Regions from separate parts of the Homo sapiens genome. Here regions 2 and 3 are each linked to region 1. Evidence: fine-mapped expression QTL. A gene starts in region 1. Each other region holds a variant in brackets. All regions are shown on one strand. Distances are between the middles of the regions. Region 1 holds the start of B4GALT4 (beta-1,4-galactosyltransferase 4). Region 2 overlaps UPK1B (uroplakin 1B). Region 3 overlaps UPK1B (uroplakin 1B).

Evidence for each region.
Region 2: its variant is fine-mapped to the expression of B4GALT4 in whole blood (INTERVAL, PIP above 0.99).
Region 3: its variant is fine-mapped to the expression of B4GALT4 in whole blood (INTERVAL, PIP above 0.99).

What each region holds. Positions count from the first base shown.
Region 1 is chr3:119,236,532-119,244,843 of GRCh38, reverse strand. It overlaps B4GALT4 (beta-1,4-galactosyltransferase 4), which reads left to right and starts at 3,966. Exons shown (of 8, transcript NM_003778.4): 1 at 3,966-3,994; 2 at 7,774-7,991. The region is part of intron 3 of B4GALT4-AS1 (B4GALT4 antisense RNA 1); the gene reads right to left. RefSeq lists silencers at 3,100-3,149, 3,800-4,279.
Region 2 is chr3:119,184,648-119,192,959 of GRCh38, reverse strand. UPK1B (uroplakin 1B) reads right to left here. Exons shown (of 8, transcript NM_006952.4): 2 at 6,150-6,246; 3 at 4,985-5,185; 4 at 2,641-2,715; 5 at 1,856-1,978. The coding sequence starts at 6,218. Among named protein-coding and RNA genes, the nearest start is that of UPK1B, 15 kb to the right of the region's middle. The variant G/C (reference allele first, on the strand shown) is at 4,185.
Region 3 is chr3:119,202,686-119,210,997 of GRCh38, reverse strand. UPK1B (uroplakin 1B) reads right to left here. Exons shown (of 8, transcript NM_006952.4): 8 at 5,855-7,081. The coding sequence ends at 7,031. Among named protein-coding and RNA genes, the nearest start is that of B4GALT4-AS1, 20 kb to the left of the region's middle. RefSeq lists enhancers at 3,600-4,124, 4,125-4,651. The variant GGGA/A (reference allele first, on the strand shown) is at 4,969.

The DNA of each region.
Region 1 (8,312 bases):
GAGGCACACTAGCACTGCCTACTACCTGCCATCTTAGAACAGATAGACAAACCAAAACATATTTTTTTTATTTTTAATTTTTTACTATACTTTGTTTTAGGGTACATGTGCACAACGTGCAGGTTAGTTACATATGCATACATGTGCCATGTTGGTGTGCTGCACCCATTAACTTGTTATTTAACATTAGGTAACCAAAACATATTTAAAAGGATGTAAATTTATTGCTAAGTGTGGACTCATGGAGGCCCCATATGGCCACCTGGTTCTTCCTGAGTCCTTAAATCTTCCATTATTAAAAACTCTGTACTCCATTACTCATCATGGGGTAGACAAAAAACTAGTTCTGGGAAGACCTATATCCTTAATAATAGACTCTCATGTATCTCCTGCTCTTATAAGCTTTGCTGTAACTAAATACTGCAAAGCTTTAATCCATTATATGAAAGTGTGTTTTCCCCAGGTAAAAGCCTTTTGTGATACACTGAGTACAACCAACCTTTCACAATCTAGAACTCAGAGATTGAGTCTTCTGGAAATAACATCCCATCTGAGAAAAACTGCTCTTGTATCCCATTAGAAGAGATTATATCATGTACTTCTCTCACCACCCACAGTAAAACTTCAGGGCCTCGAGTTTTGGTCCATACCTTGTAACTCAAAAGAGCCCCTTCAAACTCTTGGAATTATACACCTGTTGGAGATCTTAAGGTAGGGAAGTTTCTCCCCAGAAGCAGATGGCATCCTAGACATGGACAGCTTTCTCAAGATCATGGATCAAGACTTCTCTGCTATCATGACTATCTTATCTTTTTTTCTATTTTTTCCATATTTCCTGCTGGGAAATCCATGGGACCATAATTTATAGATGGCTTTAGCTAAGGCTCATGCTCTAACAAGAAAAACTAGAGCAACTGTTGGGTTTCTGGACTGATGCCAAAAAAAAAACCCCTAGGAAACAATTTTATTAATGCCAATGCCTCTCTGTGAAATGAAAGCCACCCTAAAACCTCAAAAGCAGATTGGAAAGCTATCTTTAATTTTGTAGATATCACTGCTACTTGCTTTCCTACACTTACTGAAAGCAATAACCCAACTTCTCCAATTAATAACCTACCAGCTACCAAATATAGAAAAGCTGAGTGATTCTTTTTTTTTTTTTTTTTTAGATTAACTTGCTTGGCTCCTTTATTATTCTCCTTTATTATTAAACTTCCTCAGCATAATGTGATTTGGGCAGACAGAGATGTTATCCTGTGGCTTATTGTTGGCCTACATTCTCTTTTTTTTTTTTAAATTTATTTTTTTTTTAGTATTTATTGATCATTCTTGGGTGTTTCTCGGAGAGGGGGATTTGGCAGGGTCATAGGACAATAGTGGAGGGAAGGTCAGCAGATAAACATGTGAACAAAGGTCTCTGGTTTTCCTAGGCAGAGGGCCCTGCCGCCTTCCGCAGTGTTTGTGTCCCTGGGTAGTTGAGATTAGGGAGTGGTGATGACTCTTAGCGAGCACGCTGCCTTCAAGCATCTGTTTAACAAAGCACATCTTGCACTGCCCTTAATCCATTTAACCCTTAGTGGACACAGCACATGTTTCAGAGAGCAGGGGGTTGGGGGTAAGGTTATAGATTAACAGCATCCCAAGGCAGAAGAATTTTTCCTAGTACAGAACAAAATGGAGTCTCCTATGTCAACTTCTTTCTACACAGACACAATAACAATCTGATCTCTCTTTCTTTTCCCCACATTTCCCCCTTTTCTATTGGACAAAACCGCCATCGTCATCATGGCCCGTTCTCAATGAGCTGTTGGGTACACCTCCCAGACAGGGTGGTGGCCGGGCAGAGGGGCTCCTCACTTCCCAGACGGGGCTGCCGGGCAGAGGGGCCCCCCACCTCCCAGACGGGGCGGCGGCCGGGCAGAGGGGCCCCCACCTCCCAGACGGGGCGGCGGCTGGGCAGAGGCGCCCCCCACCTCCCGGACGGGGCGGCTGGCCGGGCGGGGGCTGCCCCCCACTTGCCGGGCGGGGCGGCTGGCCAGGCGGGGGCTGCCCCCCCACCTCCCGGGCGGGGCGGCTGGCTGGGCGGCTGCCCCCCACCTCCCGGACCAGGCAGCTGCCCGGCGGAGGGGCTCCTCACTTCTCAGACAGGGCGGCCAGTCAGAGACGCTCCTCACCTCCCAGACGGGGTGGCGGCGGGGCAGAGACACTCCTCAGTTCCTAGACGGGTCGCCGCCGGGCAGAGGCATTCTTCACCTCTCAGACGGGGTGGTGGGGCAGAGGCGCTCCCCACATCCCAGATGATGGGCGGCCAGGCAGAGACGCTCCTCACTTCCTAGACGGGGTGGCGGCCGGGAAGAAGCGCTCCTCACTTTCCAGACTGGGCGGCTGGGCAGAGGGGCTCCCCACATCCCAGATGATGGGCGGCCAGGCAGAGACGCTCCTCACTTCCTATACGGCGTGGCAGCAGGGCAGAGGCTGCAATCTCGGCACTTTGGGAGGCCAAGGCAGGCGGCTGGGAGGTGGAGGTTGTAGCGATCCGAGATCAAGCCACTGCACTCCAGCCTGGGCAACATTGAGCACTGAGTGAGCGAGACTCCGTCTGCAATCCCGGCACCTCGGGAGGCCGAGGCTGGCAGACCACTCGCGGTCAGGAGCTGGAGACCAGCCCGGCCAACTCGGCGAAACCCCGTCTCCACCAAAAAATACGAAAACCAGTCAGGTGTGGCGGTGCGCGCCTGCAATCCCAGGCACTCGGCAGGCTGAGGCAGGGGAATCAGGCAGGGAGGCTGCCGTGAGCCGAGATGGCGGCAGTACAGTCCAGCCTCGGCTCGGCATCAGAGGGAGACCATGCAAAGGGGAGACGAGGACCGTGCAAAGGGGGGAGGGAGATGGGGAGGGAGACAGAGAGGGGGAGGGGGAGGGGAAAAGCTGAGTGATTCTTGCAAAAGGTATATATTATGCTTCCAGGCATCATATGCTCAAGACCTGGGGACTATGTGGGTATAAGTAACTGATTGTATAACGCCACTGGATGAAATCCAGTAATGTCCTTTTTCACTAAATGTGGTTATACACCCTTACAGCATGTTACAAAGGGAACACAAAAAAATAAGTTTCACACTGGACCTTGTTCAGGAGCAGTGTTGACCTATTTCACTGACCTATCCTCAACTGCCACTAGGTGGCCCTCTTTTCCAGCTTCCAAGGGCCTACATTGGGCCTATGCGGCCTCAGTATAGCCTCAGATTTCCTGCTATGAAGCTTAATGAGCCCAGCACTGGCTCTAGCTATGGTTTGTTCCTTTTTGGGTGGAGTGGATGTGTGGTTCTTGGAGAATCTACTACTTTCCCGTGAGTGCAGTGGGAGACTGCATTAGAGAATCTAGCTATCCTGACTGCCTAAACAGAGCCTACCATAATTTTTCACTCAAATCTTTAGTGTAAATATAATTGTCTTTGCTTTCTGTAATAATATCTTTGAAGAAATACGGATTTAAAAAAATCATTTAATATTCTCAGACCTGCAACATGGGAAAAATATTATTATTATTATTATCATTTTTGCAGTTGAGAGGGCTGAAATCTCGCAGGGTGATTAAGTTTATTAGCCTCTCTAAAGTCTCAGTTTCCCACTCTGTAAAATGGAAGGGTCCCTATCTCTTTCCTACTGCTTTGTGAGTATTTAAGGGGATGGAATTTGGGAAGCGCTCAGCACCCAGTCTACTATTGGCACAGGGTTTTAAAGCCACCCAGAGGCCGAGGCGTCAACCCTCCGTTTCCCTCCCGGTGCTCCTTCCAGCGCCCGGTGTGGTCGATTTGGCGGGGGTGGAGCGCCAGGCGCGTGCAGAGCCGGGCGGACCAGCCTCTCCGGCCAAGGCGGGAGGCGGAGCTCGTACTCAAGAGCCGCCTCCCGGGCGGCTGGGGCGGTCCCCGAGCTGCTTTCCGCGTTCTCCCCTCTCCGCGGGCAGTGCTAGCTCGCCGCGGCCGCCTCCGGGGTGAGTACGCTGGCTCCGCCGGCGCCCGGGAAATGCAGTTCCCTGGACACGGGCGCCGTGCGAGGGTAGCCGGGCGACGGCCGGGGTCAGTCCCAGGGCTGTAGCGGGGCGGGCGTGGGGATGACGTGGCGGCGTCCGTGGGGCAGTCCCGCCTCAGCCGGAGCGGTGGGCCGGGCCGGGGGCCTACGGAGGCCGAGCCTGGCGGGAGGCACCGGCTCAGGTGCTGGCGTTCCGCGCGGCGCCGCCTCTGCTGCGGGCCGGGGGAGCCAGACGAGGTGCTGCCGGGTAGGAAAAAATCCAGGGCTCATTCATACCCCAGGTCACGATTCCGGGGTCGCCCCCAGCACTTCTCCGCCGGGTGCATCAACCTGAAAAAGCCCCTTCTTCCTGGAAACCCTCCTTCTCCAGCGTTTCAACGGGGAAACTGATCAGCTGACACCAGCCCCAGTCCTGCGAGGGGCCGGCGACCTTTGACCTTTCTCCAAAGGGGTTGGTCACCTGGATTATAAAAGACTTCGGAGACAGCCATCCAGTGTTTGTTGATCTGTATCCCTTGATGTTCTGTCTTCCATTAGATAAGGGCTGTTAATTCTTGGTTTGAAAAAAAACAGACAAAGTCCAAAGGACTCTGCATCGAGGAGAGGCCTATGGGTTGGTAGCCTTAGGAGAGTAGTTATCAACAGTGGGTGGGTGTGCACACTGTTGCAAAGTGTTCCAGAGTGGGTGAGGGATGGGGACGTGGCGGTGGTGAGGGTACTGGTAGACCTCCTCAGCCGTTTGGTGATGAAAAGGAGGAAAAAGAAAATGGTAATCTGAGCGTGGAGGCGAGTTGTGGCTTTTTTTTTTTTTTTTAAATTTTTAAAGAAAGGAAAATAACACCTTTAAGATGCAAGAAAATCAAGGAGAGATCAGGATGAATAGGATTCAGGGTCCGGATTGAGAAACTGGGATTCAGAAGGGAGGGCTATTCCCGAGACCCAGGCGGGGAGTGCTGGAAGGTCTCTCTTGGGAGAGGAGATAATGCTTGATTGGATATAGTTCAGAAGTTTTTGGAATTTTGTCTTCTAGAGCAGGTTTGTTCTTTATGGAAATTGTAAACCCCATGAAATTGCAATAACTTTCGTCTACCTATAGCTTTGATCAGATTGAAAACATACGTTGTGAAAAAGTACTGACCTGGATTGAACTGTTTGACTACATAATCTAAGGGGAAGTGGATAGAGAGGGCAATAAAATCAGCTCTGTGGTTGTAGTTTATATGCCACTTAATATAATAAGTATTTAGTATCTACTTTAAGCCGAGCTAATAGTAATGCCTGCCTTTTCCAGAGATGCATGCAAATGTTTTGGGAACTAACCTTCTCTTTGAAGATCTTTTATTCAGTGGAAACATCCAAAGCAAATCAGTGATGGTTTTCTATTCTTTGTTTTAAGCCATCAGTGAACAGTGGTTTCTAAAACCTGGCTGTGTGACTCAGAGTTACCTAGGTTCTCGATAAAAATATAATTTTTTTTTTTTTTTTTGAGATGGAATCTGGCTCTGTGGCCCAGGCTGGAGTGCAGTGGCACAATCTTGGCTCACTGCAACCTACACCTCTCAGGTTCAAGCAATTCTCCTACCTCAGCCTCCCGAGTAGCTGGGACTACAGGCCCAGGCCACTACTCCCGGCTAATTTTTGTATTTTTAGTAGTGATGGGGTTTCACCATGTTGTCCAGGCTGGTCTGGAACTCCTGACCCCAAGTGATCCATTTGCCTCCCAAAGTGCTGGGATTACAGATGTGTACCATGGGCCCAGGCAAAAATATCAATTTCTTGACTCCACTTCAGGCCTTTGAAATAAAAATCTCTGGGGCTGGAGCCTGGGAATAGGCATTTCAAACACAGACCACAGTGTTCTCTGGCACTGAAGATTACTAACAGCCTCTGAAGTTTTTCTTTGAGATTGGGGCTTTTTGGCCTATTTAGAACAGGTTTTCTTAAAGGTTATATGAATGAATTGTCAAACTTATGTAACTAAAAGTTATAATTCCTGTCTGTGATGTTATCTTTAAATTTTAATGTACAGTCGTCCTCCTTATTCTTGGGGGATATGTTGCAAGACTGACAGTGGATGCCTGAAACCGTGGATAGTGCCAAACCCTATATACGCTGTTTTTTTCTATATATGCATACATATCTATACTAAAGTATAACTTATAAGTTAGGCACAGTAAGAGATGAATAATATCTAATAATAGAACAGTTACAATATGCTGTGATAAAAGATATGAATGTCATCTCTTTCTCAAAATATCTTACCGTATTTTTTTGTGGTTAACTGAAACCGCAGAAAGTGAAACCAAGGACTACTATATTTTAAAGGAAAACTATGTAGTCATTTTATCAGAAAACAATATTGTTTCTGTTGATGAAAACTCCATTTTAGAAAAATTAGAAGATACAAAAGAAATAGAAGTTTTCTCCTAATACTGTAATTAAGAGATGACCACCAGTGACTATCATTTTGTATGTAAAAGGTATGCACACACACATGTATTGCATAATTGGTATTATATTTTATATACTTTTTTTTTTTTTTTTTTTTAGAGACAGGGTCTCTGATGCCCAGGCTGGAGTGCAGTGGCATGATCTCAGCTCACTGCAGCCTCCGCCTCCCGGGTTCAGGTGATCCTCCTTCCTCAGCCTCCCAAGTAGCTGGGACTACAGGCATGCGCCACCATGCCAAGCTAATTTTTGTACTTTTAGTAGAGGAGGGGTTTCAACATGTTGGCCAAACTGGTCTTGAACTCCTGGCCTCAAGTGATCCTCCCGCCTCGGCCTTCCAAAGTGCTGGGATTACAGGCATGAGCCATCACACCCAGTCTTTATTTCATATACATTGTTATATCTTTTTTTCTACTTAGCTGTTATGAGCATTTTTCTGTGTAGTTATTGTAAACATTTTAATGAAAGCATATGTCCCATCATATGGATGTATTATAATTAATTAAATCAGATCGCTATTGTTAACATTTAGACTCTTCAATTTTTGGTTATTTTAGCAATGTTGGTTTGAATATCATGGTATACCTCTCTGATTATTTTCTTAGAATACATTTCTAAATGATGGAATCAAAAACCTTTCAAATACATTTTTAAAATCTCATTTTCACATATCTTCTTACTGCTTTTCCTTACCAGAGGGAAAACTAACATATCTGAAAGATTGATTGCATTCCAGGTCCATTCTCTTATATCAGTGGTTCTCAAACTTTAATGCAGATAAGAATCATTTGGGGAGCTTGTTAAAATTTCATTTTTCTGAGTCCTAGAGGCTGCTGTTCTGACCCATTGGCTTTGGAGTGGGGCCCAGGAATCTGCAGTTTTAACACATTCCTTTATGTATTTGATAAAGGCTCTCTTGGAACCAGATGTTGAGAAATGCTTTTTAAATAAATGGCCAAACAGACTCAAAACATTTAGGTTACTTGTCAAAAGCCATTCATGCATCTGATAACCAGAATTTGAACTCAGCTCTTTGTGACTTCAGAGCCCTGTTATACCCATGATCTCAGAGCTTTTTAAACCTTTTTAAGGTTTACGGTGAGGTGCCCCTAATGACTGCAGAAAGTAAACTCCTACTGACTCCACTGTTGGTTTCTTAGGGACAGCTGAAAGTCACATATAAGTACACAATGAACTTCTATTGGAACCTCCCATCAGAAATTCTGGTGAATTCTCTATTATGCTGCATAACATATACTACACAAAATAACTTTGGTTGTTTGGGTGTTGCAGGACCACCTGGCTTCATGTGTGGATTTCCACGGCTCTTGCCCAGAGGCGGGTACACTGTGTTCCAATGTGCCACGGAACTCACGCAGTGGCACTTTGTGGCTTCATGAAGGAAGAGGCAGGCCACGCAACACTTCCTCCCCAAGCCAAGGAGAAGTATCACTTTTAGAGGCAGAGGAGCGGAAGGCAGTGGGTGTGACCAAAAGTGCCATTTGTTAAAGGTGAGGACCCTACCCTTAGAAAAGTGTTGATATTAGTGAACTGAAGGGAGCTAGTATCGGGGTGAGCCTTTTTAATTTTTAAAATCCTTCTCAGGTGGAATTTTGTACTCATATTATTAATCTTTATTTCCCACCTTCTTTTTTAATGTTTCATTCCTTTTAGCAGTAGCCTGGAATTATGATGTGTCCTTGTGTATTTCAACTAGTATATCCTAGTCCGTCATTTGTTACTAAATTGAGTACCTGCTATGTGTCAGGTTGGTTTGAGGCACTAGGAATACAAAAACAATGATTCTCCTTGAGAATTAAGTTAATTTACTA
Region 2 (8,312 bases), 52 kb after region 1:
GGATGAAAATGGGACCACAAGTGTAGGCATCTCTTCTGAGATTTGCTGTGGAATAAAACAAAACAGTAGTAGGACAGAATAGTGGGTGAATGTTGGACAAGGGAGTCTTTTTATAAGATAGACAATTTAAGGTGTCCATGTAGGCTGTTGAAAGGGAGAAACTGATGAGGCAGATCAGAGCAGGGAAGACTGTTGGGGCAAAGGAGATGGAATGCAGAACAGAATCAAAAGAGCTGGACAAAGGACAGCCTGTGTGACATAACAAGAGAGAAGGCAAAGTGCACAGGTGTATATCAATGTAGATTTGGTGGTAGAAAGATGAGGTGGTTCTTGTCTAATTTCTTCTATATTCTTAAAAACATATGAGGTCGGGTCATCAACTGAGAGGGAGGGTGAGAAGAGGTGTGGCAGGCATGAAGGAAGAACATGTGAAATAGTGACAAGTGAATTTTCTGGGAAAATATACTAGGAAATATTGTGTGCCCATTTGAGCTCTGTGGTCACAAGTTTAAATTGAAATGATCATGGTTGTGTGACTTTTCTCAGCAATGTTTAGCTCTTAGAGTATAAACGAAGAGTGAGCAAAAAGCTATATTCTACTCGGTGGGCTTGGTTAGGAAAGAGTGACCCACAGAGAAGGGTAGGGAAGGACTGGCTATGGGGCTGGACCTGAATATGGGTTAGGCAAAGAGGAAAGAGAAAACATGAAAGGGGTGATAAAAGTTAAAAAGTGGTCAATTAATTGGAGGTCCTAATGGAATAAAATTATTAGAATTGAGATATTAGAATAAATGAAAGAAATGATAGAAATTAATGGTCAGAGAATGGAATGTTCTTAGTGGCACAGTTACTGGTGATGGCATGCTGACTATGGTCATGGAAGAGGGTGGAGGTGGGGAGAAAGACAAAATCTTTGGAATGGGGTAGGACAAGGAATTGTGAGACTAAATGTTGCTGAGTCATCCATGTGGCTGCTGAAGTTTCTAGGTGGGATATCAGGAGTATGACTGAAGAGGTAGATAGTTAAGTGAGATATTGAAATCCCTAATGAAGGCAGGAGAACGACTGAGGGTAGGGAGGCTGGTAAGTAATGGCAAGGAAGGATAAGGGGTGATGTAGATCAAGGAAGCAAATAGTATGGCAGCCAAGGGGAGCAAGAAGGACACCTAGCCAATTTCCAGGTCCTATGGTACATGGATATGGGAGGAAAATGAAGGGCAGGTAGCACTCCCAGGAGATAGCCAAATTTCCAATGAAGCAAGAAAAAGATAGTAAAGAGTTCATAGAAGGAGTGGTGGCTATAAGGGAGTTTGCTGATGACAGACTGTAAAAAGTTGGTGGTGGGGTGTGGAGTAGGAGCAGGGGCCAGTAAGAAAGCTAGGTCAGATTGGTAGTTATGTAGAGGATAACAATTTGCATACAGAGGGCAATGTGGGGGTGATGATGGATATTCTGGAAGACTTGGACTTTTGATGGCACTGGAGATAAACATGGACATAAACTATGATTGCCAGTTGGAGAAAATTGGGTGATCAAATCAAGATATAGGGCCTGGTCCTTGGCAAGACTAGCTCACAGGAGTTGTGAAGAGGTACCCAAAAGGCGAAACAGGCAGTAATTACCACTCGAGTTCACTGTGGGGTAGAGAAAATATTTTTCTTTTAATGTAAATGATACCTGAGTTCTAAGAGGGAGAGTGTATGATTAACCTAAGTTTCTTGACAAAATCATTCCAACAAATGTAAGCTAATCATCATGGCTTGAAATAAAATATAGGGTCCCACTGAGTCATGTGTATGACACCCACTCCCACCAGTAAGTAAAAATGGCATCTCCCCAAGACCACAGGTCTTACCTGGAGCATGAGCCTGTCCCAGGTTTTGGTGACTCCATTGTTTTTCCACTGGTCATCATTGTTTGGAGGGCTGTTGTTTTGGTACCTCTCTAGCATCTGCTTCAGGAAGAGGTTGGGTGTGAACTATAGTAGGAAGAGGCAACACAAGAGGGAGAGATAGCACGCTAATTTTCAAGGAGAGGAAAATATTTTTCTCTGTCTTTTCCTGGGGACACTGAACATTCTCTCCTGGAGCAAAACTGTACTCAGAGGCACCAAGTACAGCTGGCTGAGGTTGGCATAAGTCCCCATGCAGAGAAGAGACTCTCATCTTAAAAGAAATCACTATGAGGCCAGGGGAACACATACTGTAGGGTGGCTTAGGCTAGGAAAACAGAGAATGGGAGAGAAAGAAAGATGTAGAATTGAGAGCACGTCTTAGCTGAGGTAGAACAGAGATCCTCCCATTGGAAGGCCCATGGCCATGGCAGAGTGGTGAAACCCACAGGGGATTACAAACTTGGGCCCTGGGAGTCAGGCCATCTGGGTTCAGAATTCTTGCTCTTTCAGTTGCCAACTATGTCACTTTAGACAAGTCATTTTACCTTTCTGTCTCATTTTTTTTCCTTTCTCAAATGACCAGAGTGATAATGCCTATTTCATAGATTTATGAGGATTAAGTAAAATGATAGATGTATTATTACTGTGCATATTGGATTGCCTGGGCACATAGTAAGGGGTTAATACATGTTGGTTGTTATAATAATGATAATTCATATTATTTTGCTTTTTGAGGTTGTACTCACAAAGTCTTGTTGTGTTGCTGCTGTGATACAAGATGCCACTTCAAAGGCATATACTATAAACATCAGAATGAAATACTGGAAGGGAAATAAATGAGATAAAAGAATTACATTTACCCGTCAAAGAGCGACTTGCCCAAATAATTATGTTTTTTCAGCAAATTTATCATATAATCATGTAATCACTCATGTAGTTATTCAACAAACCCTCATTGACCAGTGGCTTGGATTGAGGCTTGGTGCTAGTCAGCTCAATTCTCTCCTTTTCTCCAGAGAACAAATAGCCATTGAATACAGACCTTCCTCAGTCCAGTTTCCTGAGTTTCTATTTTAACTGGGAAAAACAAGTACAAGAGAATGAACTGGTGTGTATGTGTGCACACACACATGTGAGCATTTACATGCTCATTTACATGTGTGCATTTACATGCATGTGCATGCTCAGTGAGTGGCAAGAGAGTCTTAGTGTATCACATACAGTATAGGGCCTCATAAATCCCCTTTAATTTTGGAATTTTGGAGAAATTTTCTTTACAATTTGCTGAAAATTTAGAATCACGGAGTTCAGAAAAAGATGAACTGGATAATGTTGAACATCTAGGGTCCTTCCTAACAAGCATCCAGTCTCATCAGAGGAGAGGCAGGCTTCAAGTGCACAGCATTTGTGGGTGTTCTTTCACACGCACCCACACTCAAAGTACATTGGTTCAGTTGAGTGAAATGGCATTTGCTGTGTGTGGTAGTGGTGGTGTGTGTGCGTGAGCATGGGCACATGGGTGCGTGTGCACATGATACCTCCACATGACAGTGATGCTATTTCTGGCTGGAAAATATCCGAACAGCAAATGACCTCTGAATCTGGGATGGGGACTGTTTGCAAGAGTTCCAGCTTTGCCTTCCCCAGGCTTGCACACACTCTTGGGAGAAGGGGCACTGTGGTCAGTGTCAGCAGGGTAGGCAGGGAAAACTGTCCTCCTCTTTGGGTATGGGAGGCTCTCCGAGCAGGACCCTCTGTTGCCCTCACTACTCAGCCCAGAATAAAGCTCTGGCTACAGTCAACAGCAGGAGCACCTTCAGAGGCCCCAGAACATTTTTTTCCTGTGTTAGCTGCTGCCTTGCTCCTTGCCAAGAGCTTTGCTGGCTCCTGGTAAAGACGCTCCAGAAAGGAGGTATGCAGTGAGGTGTTTCCTCCTTTAGCCCCTTTGCCTCCCCAGCTCAGTTCTCCTGGTTGTCAGGCATGCACATGGCTGGCCCAAAGTGAGGCTGGGATGCAAGTGAATTTGTCTTTAGGAACACCTGTGTCTCCTCTCCCTTTTTCCTGTATTCCTTTCCCCACCCACCAAAAGTGGGTACTTTTGCCCTGGAACTTACGCACACTAAGGAACCAGAGAATGTAAATGTTCTGTAATCCATTGGAACCAGGACAGTGGTTAGTTAAAAGGAAGAGTAAACTAACAAGCACCTTACATTGCTGGACTCATTCTATAAAGGGGGAACTGAGGTCCTGCAGCATTTGAATAAAAGGGTTATTTCAGGGGTGGGGGATT[G/C]GAGGCGTGTTCCATAATAGTGTGAAACTGCTGCCCTAAGTATTAGGGCAGACAGTAGGGGTCCACGTCTGAAACAGGTTTCTCAGCTCTGCTGCCTGCAAATTTGCTTTCATCTGCAAAGGCAGGGCATGGTCTTGCTGTCTATGGTTTGGGGCAGAAGCCTCTCCTTGATGTACAGAGTTAAAGCCCCCACAGGCAGGTGTGAGCTGAAGGCTCACTCTACAGTGGTGCTTATCAAGGTTTTCTGGGGTCCCTGAAAAGCAGATTGGATGATAATGTGGGGAGTATAGGCTATGATACAGAATCATCAACCTTGAGCTCAAAAATCTTTGAAAGCTTATACTTTCTTTTAAAAATGTATGCATATTTTATATTTTATATCCTAATATATTAATGCCTAATTAATATCAAAATGTTTTAAACAAGTTATTGCCAAGAGAAAAAAATCTAATGAATGAATTCTCACTGTGTCTCTCCTTTGGCCTATATAGCTCCTAGCTGTACCTACTGGGTGTATGCAGACACCAGCTGTAGAGGCACAATATGGAAAATACTCATTAGGTCACCCCCAGGTGTCTCCCCTTTGGCTTCTCTGTACTGGAGCCTTCTGGGCTTGCAATAGTGGAGGGCATCTTTGCCTCCATGTGGACCATTTCACTGCAGGGAAAGTCTTCCCCTCCTCACCCCTTATCTGGTACTTCCTGCTCCCCCACTGAAAGCCAAAGCATTGCTCAGTGAAGAAGAAAGAATCCATTACAATTGGCTCAGGGAGACAACTCCAGAGAATTTTGAGGTCTTACCGCCAGAAGAATTTTCCTGCTGGACTTCATGATGCCTACAATGCCTAGAACAGACAGGCAGAAGAGGCAGATGCCCACAAATATGCCGATCCAGGCAGCCCCATAGATGTCATCGTTGTCGGTGGCTTCAAGCAGTGGGTAGAGGCTGTGTTGGTCAGATACAAAGAAGATGCACTCCGCAGTCAGGGCAATGCCGCAACACTGGGGGCAAATGAAAGGTGGGCTCCATCAGGAGTGCAGCTTTGGGAAAGGGGGTGGAGGGTGGGGAAGGTAAGAGTGACTGGCTCCCTTTCCTGCACAGGCTTTATGCAACTAATCTAAACTCCCCATTGCCAGGAAATCAAACAACTACTTCCATCCTACTAACTGGTTGCATACATCCCTTCACATGTTATTCTGTCTATTTAGTAACAGACCCACACAATTTCAGACCATCCACAATGTCCTTGGGGCATGAATCACTCAAACAATGCTTTCTGGTATGAGAATGATCTCCCCCTGCCCCCATGTCATGACCCACATTTCTGGGTTGTAATATTTGAGCTGGTCCTGGTCATATTTATCAATGACAGCTGAGAGGAACCTTGCTGCTTATCTTTGCCAACACCCACATTTTATAGATGAGGAATCTCAGCCTTGAAAGGTGATGGCCAGAGTCATATGGGGAGTCAGAGGGAGAGCTGGGCCAAGAGCTCTGGACTCCAAAACAAATGTTCTTCTATGCCACCAGACCCACACAGTATGGCCTCTGTATTATTCTTACACCCTGGTACTGGCCTCTGTATGAGAAGAACAAGATGCAAGCATCTGTCCCAAAAAACCTTAACAGCAGAGTCCCATGGAAATCAAACCAAGGTGACATAGAAAAGAAATAGTGAAGTGTGTTCGTAGTCAGAGTGTTTAGACACTGACTATGGTTGACATGACTCCTTTTAGATACTTATATTTTAAAGTTGGGAGGAAAATATCTACTTTTTCAACCATGATCTTTTGACATACAGTTAAATTCTAGCTAGCATATTTACTAACACATTTCTTAAAATGAAGCAAAAATATAGGAAGCCAGTAATCACAGCATTATTTTCCTTTAAACTCTTACTTTTGATTCATCTAGAATTATGATTACAGGAAGTGCAGAATTTCCTGGAAAATAATCATTACTTACACCAATAATCACATTTCCAAAAATCAGCAGGCCCTGGAAGCAACGAACAGTTGAGTTGTCTTTGGCCATCTTCGGGATTTCCCACAAGCTGAAGGCACTGTTGAAAGCATTACCAAATAACTGCTACAGTTTCTGTAACATGAGTAAACCAAGCCATTGCGTATTGCCTCCTTGTTCCCAAAGCATCCAAACCAAAGCCATATAATCTTTTAGCGATGAAGGACATTTGATTATTGAGCTTGGTAATCACATAACTTTTATAAAGAATGAAAAGAATATAGCCTTCCAGAGCCTGGTCAGTGCCTTTCAGGAGTTCTTTCAGGCAAGGAGTGTGCAGAATGCATCCTTCTGAGTGGTGGACTGAGCCCCGCAAGGTGGAATGCACAAGGGGTAGACCTGAGATGGTGATTGGGTAGGGCCAAACACACTGAGGGTCCCTGGCATAGCCCTCACTGCCCTTGGCCATGACAAATGGAAACCCAAAGGGTAAACTCATGGCCAGAGGTAGTGGTTGGTTCCCATGTGGACTGCAGGGTGCTTTTAAAAACTATCATTTTCTGACTCTTTTATTATCTTCAAAGAAATAGTTGGCAAATAAAAAAGTGCCCCGTTGTATATGAGGGTAAGTGAAAACGGGGACTAGAATTTACTTCCTTCTGCCAGGTGTGTGCCACTCTACCAGGTGCTTTGCATGCACGCATCTAATTCTCATAACCCAGTTCGGTAGCAAAAGAAGAAAGGCGAGGAGGCTCCATTTTGCAGATGAGGAAACTAAAGCTTAAATTTGTAAATTAAGTTCCCTGGGGTCACACAACCAGTAAGTGGCAGAGCTAGGCTAGAGACCTTGGTGTGTGTGACTCCAGAGTCCACGTGCTTCCCCACAGCCCACAGTGACTCCCAGAAACTATGTATAGACTTTGGTGCCATACACAGCTGAACATGGGTCTCTCACCTCCCTGAGGATTTTCTGGAAGGAACACAAAGGTAAGTGTGTGGGTCAATCACTTGGGCTTCTGCACTTGAAGCACCTTGAGAAAAGCCATCTACAGCTCTCAACATTTAATTAATCAATTCATGCATTCCTGCTGTAAATAAAAAATGTATTAAATGGTTCAATATGCATTCTGAGGCATACAAAGATATGTAAGGGAGATTATTGTATTCTAGGATTTTTTGCGTTAGTAGGGAAACTAAGATGCATTCCCACACAATTATACTACATGTAGTGAGATGAAATATTGTGAGAGTCCTGAGGCGGGAAGACGTAAGTCTTGCAGGATGTGTATGGTTTGATATGTAGAGTAGAGGTGGATATGTGTGGGAGTGAGGTGGGGGTGGGTGACATTCCAGGTAAAGAGAAAGGAAAAGTTAGGGAGTAGAGACAGAAGAGCAAGGTGCCCACAAGATAGCAAACCAGTCAATTTGGTCAAAGTCCTAGTTTTGTAGGGTAGCAGTGGGAGGCAAACCTTCTATTTGTCTCAAGCCTTGCTAAATTTTAACCTCATTGTTACACTGTAAGTATTAACAACCTTCCAAGTAAGTTTAGACATCTCTAAATGTTTTCCTTTATCTGTTTACCTGGGTAGCTGTGACAAGTTCAGTTAAAATTTATGAGCACTTTTAGCTCAGAATTTGGCACACAGTGGGTACTCAATTCATGTTTGCTGGAGAAATGGAAGAATCTGGGCCATTGCGTCTCTGTGTAGTTTCTGCTTAGAAATGCCATTCATTTCTTTCTGCTTAGAAATTTCATTCATTCTTTCCAGTTATTGTTGCGTGTTAGACTGCACAAACTCCCCCAAGGGGGAAACTTACTCATGTAGCTGGTTGAGTCACATTGTAAAGTTCATTACTGGTATGTACAGACATTATTCCTGACCAGTTGGGTTAGTATCTAAACTAGAGACAAAAGTAAATAGACTGTGAAACGTAGGAGTTCAGATAACAGAAGCATAGAGAGGAAAGGGCAGAAATCAGTAGAGGCCAAATTCAGCACCGATATCAACTCGTACTGATTATGTACTGTGTGAAATAAGACAATTTCTTCTTTCAAGAAGTTTATTTTTATTATTATTATTATTTTTTGAGACAGAGTCTTGCTCTGTTGCCCAGGCTGCAGTGCAGTGGCACGATCTTGGCTCACTGCAACCTCCGCCTCTCAGG
Region 3 (8,312 bases), 34 kb after region 1:
AGTAGAGATGGGGTCTCACCATGTTGCCCAGGCTGGTCTTGAACTCTAGAGCTCAAAATCAATCTGCCTGCCTGGGGTGCCCAAAGCGCTGGAATTATAGGTGTGAGCCACAGTGCCCGGCCATGTTTTTTTCTTTACTTAGCAGAGAAATACTCAGGGTTTTCATGTTTTTTGCTCAAACTTTGTAAAGGAGCTTCATTCTTGGGAGATTTGCTAATGAGGCTGTAGTCTGTTGAGTAAATCTCTCCCTCACTGTCCCTTCTCTTTTCTGTAGAAACTTTGTCTAGAGCTCTCTCCCAATTTGCTTGACTATGACCATATTAACAGACGGTAATTGAGAGGTTGTAGGTCCCTCCCTCATCATGGTTGGGAAGGGCAATGGAAGAGAATGGTGTGTGCAAGGAATTTGAAGATCTGTATTTGAGAACTCAATTTCTTACTCAATGGAAATGGAGTATAGCTAGTACCATGCAGAAACTCTCTTGTGTTTTTTTGACATCTGCAATTTTTTAACTGTTGGAAACCACTGAATGATGCCTTTTATTTTTCTTCAGGTAATTCTTTCAACCAAGATAATCTAAAAGTCCCTTAAATGACTTGTTATGGAACTTCTTGAGGTGGAAGATAGTTTTTTAAGACCTTGACACTGCCATTGTGACACTTTCCCTGCACTGGGGCATCAAAGGCTGGTGACACGGGGCATGAGGCCGCCTGCCCACTCACTGCTGCCTCCCTCCCTGCTCTTGCCTCCCCACTGGGCAGGGGGTTTGGCTTCAAAGGAACTGGCTTCCTCCAGTTCCTGCCCTGTGCATTTTCTCATAGTTGCCAAAGAGGCCTACTGTTTTAAATATTGTAGAGACAGCTATGCCTACTATAATTGCTAAGGATTATGTGGGGGCAGGCTATTTGGATATCACAACTACCTAACACAAAGAGTGTGTTACTTTGAAGTTTTCATTGATTTTTTTTCCTCACCTATACTGGCATTCATTTCTATAGTGCTTTGCAGTTTGTGATATCTTTACACACACTTTATTGGTGCCGCTTACTCTTTTTTTTTTTTTTTTTTTTTTTGAGACAGAGTCTCACTCTGTCACCCAGGCTGGAGTGCAGTGGCACAATCTCGGCTCACTGCAACCTCCACCTCCTGGGTTCAAGTGATTCTCCTGCCTCAGCCTCCCAAGTAGCTGGGACTACAAGCATGCCTCACCATGCCCGGCTAATTTTTGTGTTTTTAGTAGAGACGGAGTTTCACCATATTGGCCAGGCTGGTCTTGAATTCCTGACCTCAGGTGATCCGCCTGCCTCTTCCTCCCAAAGTACTGGGACTACAGGCGTGAGCCAATGTGCCTGGCCGATGCTTCTGACTCTTGAGGTAAGAGGGCAGTTGAGTAAGTTGAGTAAGTAGAGGTCTCAGCCAGGAGGGTGCCTTGCCAGGAGTCTCACAGGCAGCAAATGGCAGATTCTGAGCAAAACTCGGGCCCTTTGACTTTCAAGACCATTACATCATATTGCCTTCTTCTTGGCTTCTCTACTTCTTTGTGGTAATTTTCCTGAATGTGTGTCATTGTCTTAATTCCTACAGAGAGTTAGTATTGTCTGGACCCTGGAAAGTGCATTCCTGTTCTCAGCTGCTCTCAGAACTTTGTCCCCAACTCCATCTGTAATTTTTCTGCCCTTACCCCCATCACTTCCACTCAAGCCCCAATGGATAGATTTCCTGGGAGCCCCAAAATGCTCTGTGAATGGACTTGAGTGAGATAAAAGACATTTTCTCCCAGACTTGAAATTCACTTTCCCCAATCCTATTCATATATGCAGTCCCTACCAAAAACCATTAACATGTTCTGCAAGATGAAGCATATTCAGGTACATTTCATAAGTTCTTTTTCACCAATCACATTCTATAACTTAAAAAAAAAACCCTCTATCCTTAGTGCCTTCGATATTTTATGCTATTTCTACCTTCGTTGATTTTTTTGTATATGCATAACCATCTTATACCTGCTGAGAGGGCCTGATCATTCTAAAAGTATACACAAGGGAGTGGTTTAGAGGTTCCACCCCTAGGAAGTACACCTGTACAGGTAAAGCCTCCATTGTTCCATTGATAATTGTTAAGATTTAAATAAAATTATCAAACCTTGTGTGCCCATGTGTGGAGTGTGAGTGTGTGTGTGTGTGTGTGTGTGTGTGAGAGAGAGAGAGAGAGAATGAGAGAGAGATGTGGGGGCTTGGAGCAGAGGTTGGTGAAGGGTGGGACATAATAATAAACTAAGTGCTTGCTCTGTATCAGTTTCCTTGATATAACCTCCTGATTGGCATCTCTTATAGACCGATGCACACTGTACGTATCTTACTGAATCCTCCCAGTCCTGTGTGAGGAGAGACCAGTTTTTCTGAAGCAGGCTCCAAGAAGCTAAGTGACTTGTCAAAGAGCTGGGATTTGGAGCCAAGTACTTTGACTCCAGAGTTCATGTTCTTAACCACTTCATGGTGATGGATAAATAAATACACCTACACCAGGAAGGAATAAATACATCCTATTTCCTAGAGGAAATAAGGATTGGAAGACTAACTTGGAGAGTGTCAATGCTCTTCAGCCAAAACCCCCCAGGAACACATTGCAGATAAATTAATTGGGTTAGAGTTGATCAAAGGGTACAAAATTTCAGTTGGAGGAATAAATTCAAGAGCTCTATTTTGAAAAAAATTGGGATTGTGACTAGTTGCAATCGTTGCAGTGAGTGAGAACACACCATGGGGGATCCATGAAGCAACTCAGTAGAAGGAAGTTAGAATTATTACAGCATTTGGGCTTTGGTTGGGTCATTTGGGGAGGGTCCAAGAAAGGGTTTGCTCTGTTGGATATTATCAGAAAGCAGGGGCAAGTCCATGGTTGTTTATTTCAATAAGTTTTATTTGTAGGGAGGGAGACTAGCAAGAGAATAAAGCTGTAATTGGGAAGACATAGCAGTCACTAATTTTAGCCAAGAAAGCAGGTGTTTGGTTTTTTGTGGGTGGCACAGTGACCTTGTTTTTGTCTATGCATAGACAAAATTATGCAGTGGCCTTGGCTTGCCTCGTTTTGTCATGGTCTCAGAGTGACCCTATGAGGCTGGTATTCTGTGAGATTGTTTATGTCTAACAGGAGAATAGTTGAGCCTAGTTGTGAGTGCCTCACCAGCATCTGTTGCTCTGTAGTTCTTTTTCAAGAGGAACTCAGGGTAGAAACCACTAGAAAGTAGGGCATGACAGTACCATTTCTCCAAACTCCAGGATTTGACTATTTGTGTCTTAACAATGTGGAGTGGGGGCGTGTGCTGGGGGAAGGGTTGGTTGGAGAAGTGTATGGGATCTCTGTTTCTCGGCAAGGCTGCCTTTCTCTACAATGTTTCTGGATCCCTTTACGGGATCTGGCCACTTGAGCCTTATAATACAATAGCAAACTCAGTAGTCTATAGCTACCCTTCTTTGGGGTTCTTCTTTGATTCAGTCTCACTTATACAGGCTGAGAAGGATCTGGAAGAGACACTAGAGGAAATACTAGACCCAGAAGGAGAAAGGAAATTGTTCCATCAATAGAAATGAGAAACCAGCTTAGTTTCTAATTCCTCAACCACAACACAGGTTGTCAGATTGGTTGGGGTGGGGGTGTGAGATTGAGAGGAGGTTAGATTTTCAAGTTCACATGACTAGTATTCCTTTTATGGGTAGCCAGAAAATATCTGATCTTCTGTTTAAAATAGAAGCAGTTCCTGTTTATTCCAGCTGATGTAGAGAAAGAAAAGCTACAAGGCTGACAAGTAGGAGCAATGGGCTTTTAAAAATTAAATGACAGACTGTTTGCCTGCCAGGAGCCTGTGGAGCAATCTAGGGATGGAAATGGCCAGCCAAGAGAGCATGATGACCCGCCTGGCGTTGCAATCAAGTAAAACTTACCCAAATTAGCCTGACACATTTTTGGTGTTAGTAATTATTCTTTGCCCACCTGATAAGCAGGTGTTGAAGAGGGAAGTTTCACAAGATAGTTGTGTCTGGGCCTGTCTCACACTCAGCAAGCTGCCAGATCCCTAGAGCCAAGCCGCCTGGTTCCCCTTTGCCTCCCTGGTTTGCTGGGGCTGGGGCTGGGGCTGAGCCTGGGCCTGCCTGAGCATTGGCTTGGGGCCACTTCCAGTCCCTGGAGCCAGAAGGAAGAGGGGCAAGGCTGGGCCTCCAGGGAAGGTGGAGGGACATGGGAGCAGGAACTGGGCAGAATAGAAACTGTCCTGAGGTTAAAACAGGAGAGCCCTGTAGAGGGAAGCACAGGAGTCCTGAATGGCCAGACTCTCTGCAGGGTGATCCTCAGACCTCGTTTCTGTCTTAGCTGAAAGGTGTGTCCTCCTCAAGTGTTGGAGCCCCAGGACATAGTGGGTGCCTGTGTTTAGGACCTTATTTGGTTTTGGAAGGAGCAGAGCCTGCCCCCATTTATAGTGGACTTTGCACCTTCTATAAAGGAGGCTGAGGCTGCAGGAAGGAAACTAGCTGGAGAGGGGGCAGGGGGCAGTGGCTCACTGACGGCCCCTTCTCTTTTAGTTATTGCTTGGTAAGGAAGTCAGGGGATAAGATTTAAGGAATAGTAGGTGGGCCATCTTGTCCCGCAATGGCTCTTTCATGCTCCCACTGCTGTGCTGGATTCCACCAACTAGAGATCAACCTCAGTTATCAAGAAAACGTCATAGAGATTGAGAGAGTGGAGTTGAGTTGTCACCCACTCCTTAGTATGAATTGGTTTCCAAAAAGGCCTTCCCCTAACCTAGCCGAGATCTAATCATAAGAAGGGAATTTTGCTACTTGGGTGGCTGAGGCAGGAGAATCGCTTGAACCTGGGAGGTGGAGGTTGCAGTGAGCCGAGATCGTGCCATTGCACTCCAGCCTGGGCAACAAGAGTTAAACTCTGTCTCAAAAAAAAAAAAAAAAAGGGGGGGG[GGGA/A]GGGAGGCGGGGAATTTTGTATGTAGAGAGAATTTTGGAGCATGAAGCCCTGGAAGGGAAGTAGGAGTGGGTTTGGGGCAGGAATTGCTCAGGCAGTCGGGAGGTGAGGGCACTGGAAAGCCCAGTGAGTGGTGGAGGCAAAAGGCACCAGAACACACAGGAGAGAGTGTGCGGAGGAAAATGAGAGCACGGCTGTTTCAAAGCTTTGCCCAGAGGAAGCTCCTTCCCTGTCCTCCTGTCTTCTAAAGGACCACAGAGAGAACCTTCTCAGCCAAGCACAGGTGTCATTTATCTCGATATCCCATGATCTTCATTCAGGAGAGACAAGGCAGGCCAAGGAGAGGTGAACTGGCTGTGCTGTCAGGACATGGACATTTGGTTCCCTCTCCTGGGAATCAGGGATCGGGCTCCTGCGCCAGCTTTACAACCAAGGCAAGTCCCCTCCAATCCTCCTTGTCTTTCCCCTACCCCCACGCTCAGCCTCACTCACAGGTACCCGGTGGGGGCATGGGATGGGGGTGCTGCCTGCGTCTGAGTCAGCTGGGAGCAGGACGCCAAAGTGTTTTCTTCATGAAGGACACACAGTTCTGCAGTTAGCATGGGCGAGGTTTCCACTGCTTTCAATTGCATGAGGTAAATGATTTGAAGAGCATTAGTCTCATCACTGCTTCTGGGGTAAGTGTAGCAGGAGCAAAAAGTAAAAGTGAGCGTAGAAGTTCCCACCGTTTAACTGTAAGGCAGCGTTTGCCAGCATCCAGCAGGAAGCCACACCCTGTGTCTGCAGTTTCTACCTCCTCCACTTTAATTCCCATGCTTTAGGCTTTTCTGTTGGAAAACCCATTTTGTTAGACTCATATATGACATTGGTAAAAATGAAAGTGAACAGATTTTAAAGCTGTCTTTACTTATAAGACCAGACAAATGTTGAGTTATAAGAATTTCCTTCAGGACCACAAATGGAAACATAGTGCAGATGAGAAATATTTTGACAGTAAACAGAAATCCCTGTAAATCACCCCATTCTATTGGCTGGCTTGCTTCTCTCCAGTTTGAAATGGTCTCAAGCTGAGACCATTCAGGGCAAAGACTGAGTAAATATATAACAGGCACCTTGTCTGTCCCCAGAAGTCCCCACGCTTTTTTGTTTGTTTTGAGACAGAGTCTGGCTCTTTCATCCAGGATGGAGTGCAATAGGTACGATCTCAGCTCACTGCAACCTCTGTCTCCCGGTCAAGTGATTCTCCTGCGTTAGCCTGCCAAGTAGCTAGGATTACAGGCACCTGCCATCACGCCTGGCTAATTTTTGTATTTTTGTAGAGACGGGGTTTCACCATGTTGGCCAGGCTGGTCTTGAACTCCTGACCTCAGGTGATCTGCCCACCTCGGCCTCCCAAAGTGCTGGGATTACAGGCATGAGCCCCCACGCCCAGCCCACACTTTTAATTAATGGAGAATTGAGGCTACTAAACACATACTTCAAGGTATGAAAGGAAATTTGAACCACTGTTAAGAATTATTCTGGAGAATAAAAGGATCTGAAGGTGGCATCAAGAGAATCACCCATCTCCATATATGGGAGCTACTCTAGAAAGAAATGCAAAAGGTATATTTCAGTAATCTTTTCCCAACTTCTCTGTTCCCCTGACAATACTGAGATCAACAGAAGCATTGGAAGGTTTCTTTTAGATAATAGTGAGAGATACAGGCAGATTGCTAGCCAAATACAGCTCTGGGTTACTGTGATAACACAGGTTCCTTCGAATGTATTTATTTTCCCAAATTAAAAATAAGCAGGGATGGAAGTAGTTATTATGCATTTTTCAAATTCTCCTTTCAACAGTCTATATAAATGTTGCAGAATGCTAGACTAGGATGAAAAGTAGGAGTCATGAGAACTGCAGAAGCCTGAGATCCTAAAGGAAGTCCGTACCATCTGACTTGGCAATGTAAGACACACACGTTAGTGTGGGGCACAAACGTGGAATATTAGGAGAGAGCTGGTTCCAGCACCAAATCCAGAGTCACTCGGGGAAGGAGGTATGGTGGCAACACTTTATGCTTAATATTCAATTCTGCTCCAGTAGAACATGGTACCCAGGAGAACCCAAAACTGGAATAGAAAAAAACAAGGAAAAATAAACAAGGGATTGTTTTAGAAACATCTCATTCTTGGAAAAAGTGGATGTTAGGTTCATTCAGGCTTAGGTGACAACAGATTTTTTTGTTTGTTTGTTTTTATTTCTTCTAAAAAACCAAAACAAAAACAGGATACATGTACAGAACGTGCAGGTTTGTTACACAGATGTACGTGTGCCATGGTGGTTTGCTGCACCTGTTGACCCATCCTCTAAGTTCCCTTCTCCTCACTCCTCACCCCTCAGCAGGCCCTGGTGTGTGTTGTTCCCCTCCCTTTGTCCATGTGTTCTCATTGTTCAACTCCCACTTATGAGAGGGAACATGCAGTGTCTGGCTTCCTGTTCCTGTGTTAGTTTGCTGAGGATGATGACTTCCAGCTTCATCCATGTCCCTGCAAAAACATGATCTCATTCCTTTTTATGGCTGCATAGTATTCCATAGTGTGCATGGACCACATTTTCTTTATCCAGTCTATTGCTGATGGGCATTTGGGTTGGTTCCATGTCTTTGTTAGATATCAGATTTTTTTTTTTTTTTTTTTTTTTTTTTTGAGACGGAGTTTCGCTCTGTCGCCCAGGCTGGAGTGCAGTGGCGCGATCTTGACTCACTGCAAGCTCCGCCTCCCGGGTTCACGCCATTCTCCTGCCTCAGCCTCCTGTGTAGCTGGGACTACAGGCACGCGCCACCATGCCCGGCTAATTTTTGTATTTTTAGTAGAGACGGGGTTTCACCGTGTTAGCCAGGATGGTCTCGATCTCCTGACCTCGTGATTTGCCCGTCTCGGCCTCCCAAAGTGCTGGGATTACAGGCGTGAGCCACCACGCCTGGCCTAGATATCAGATTTTTAAGAGTAATCTCGTTATAAGCAACATCACTGGGCCAGATGTGACACCAAATCCATCCTGCTCCAAAGCATCACTTATTACCTGCCACTCAGAAGCAACTTCTGTGTTCCCCACGTTCTGATCCCAGTTCTCATCCTAGATTCCTTGTCTTCTGGGGTTGCCCTTCTCGTCTGTGCTAAACTCTTTTTGCCATCAAGGCCACTTATCCTCCAATGCCTTCCTGTTTCTAGTATGTACCATTTCGGGGTAAGCATTCCTTGCTTCTAGTATTAAACTTCTCCCAGGGAACTTCTATTTTTTCCTAAAATGCTTGTGCCCTGGAATGGCTGCCTCTGAAGAATGCCACAGAACTCAAGATAT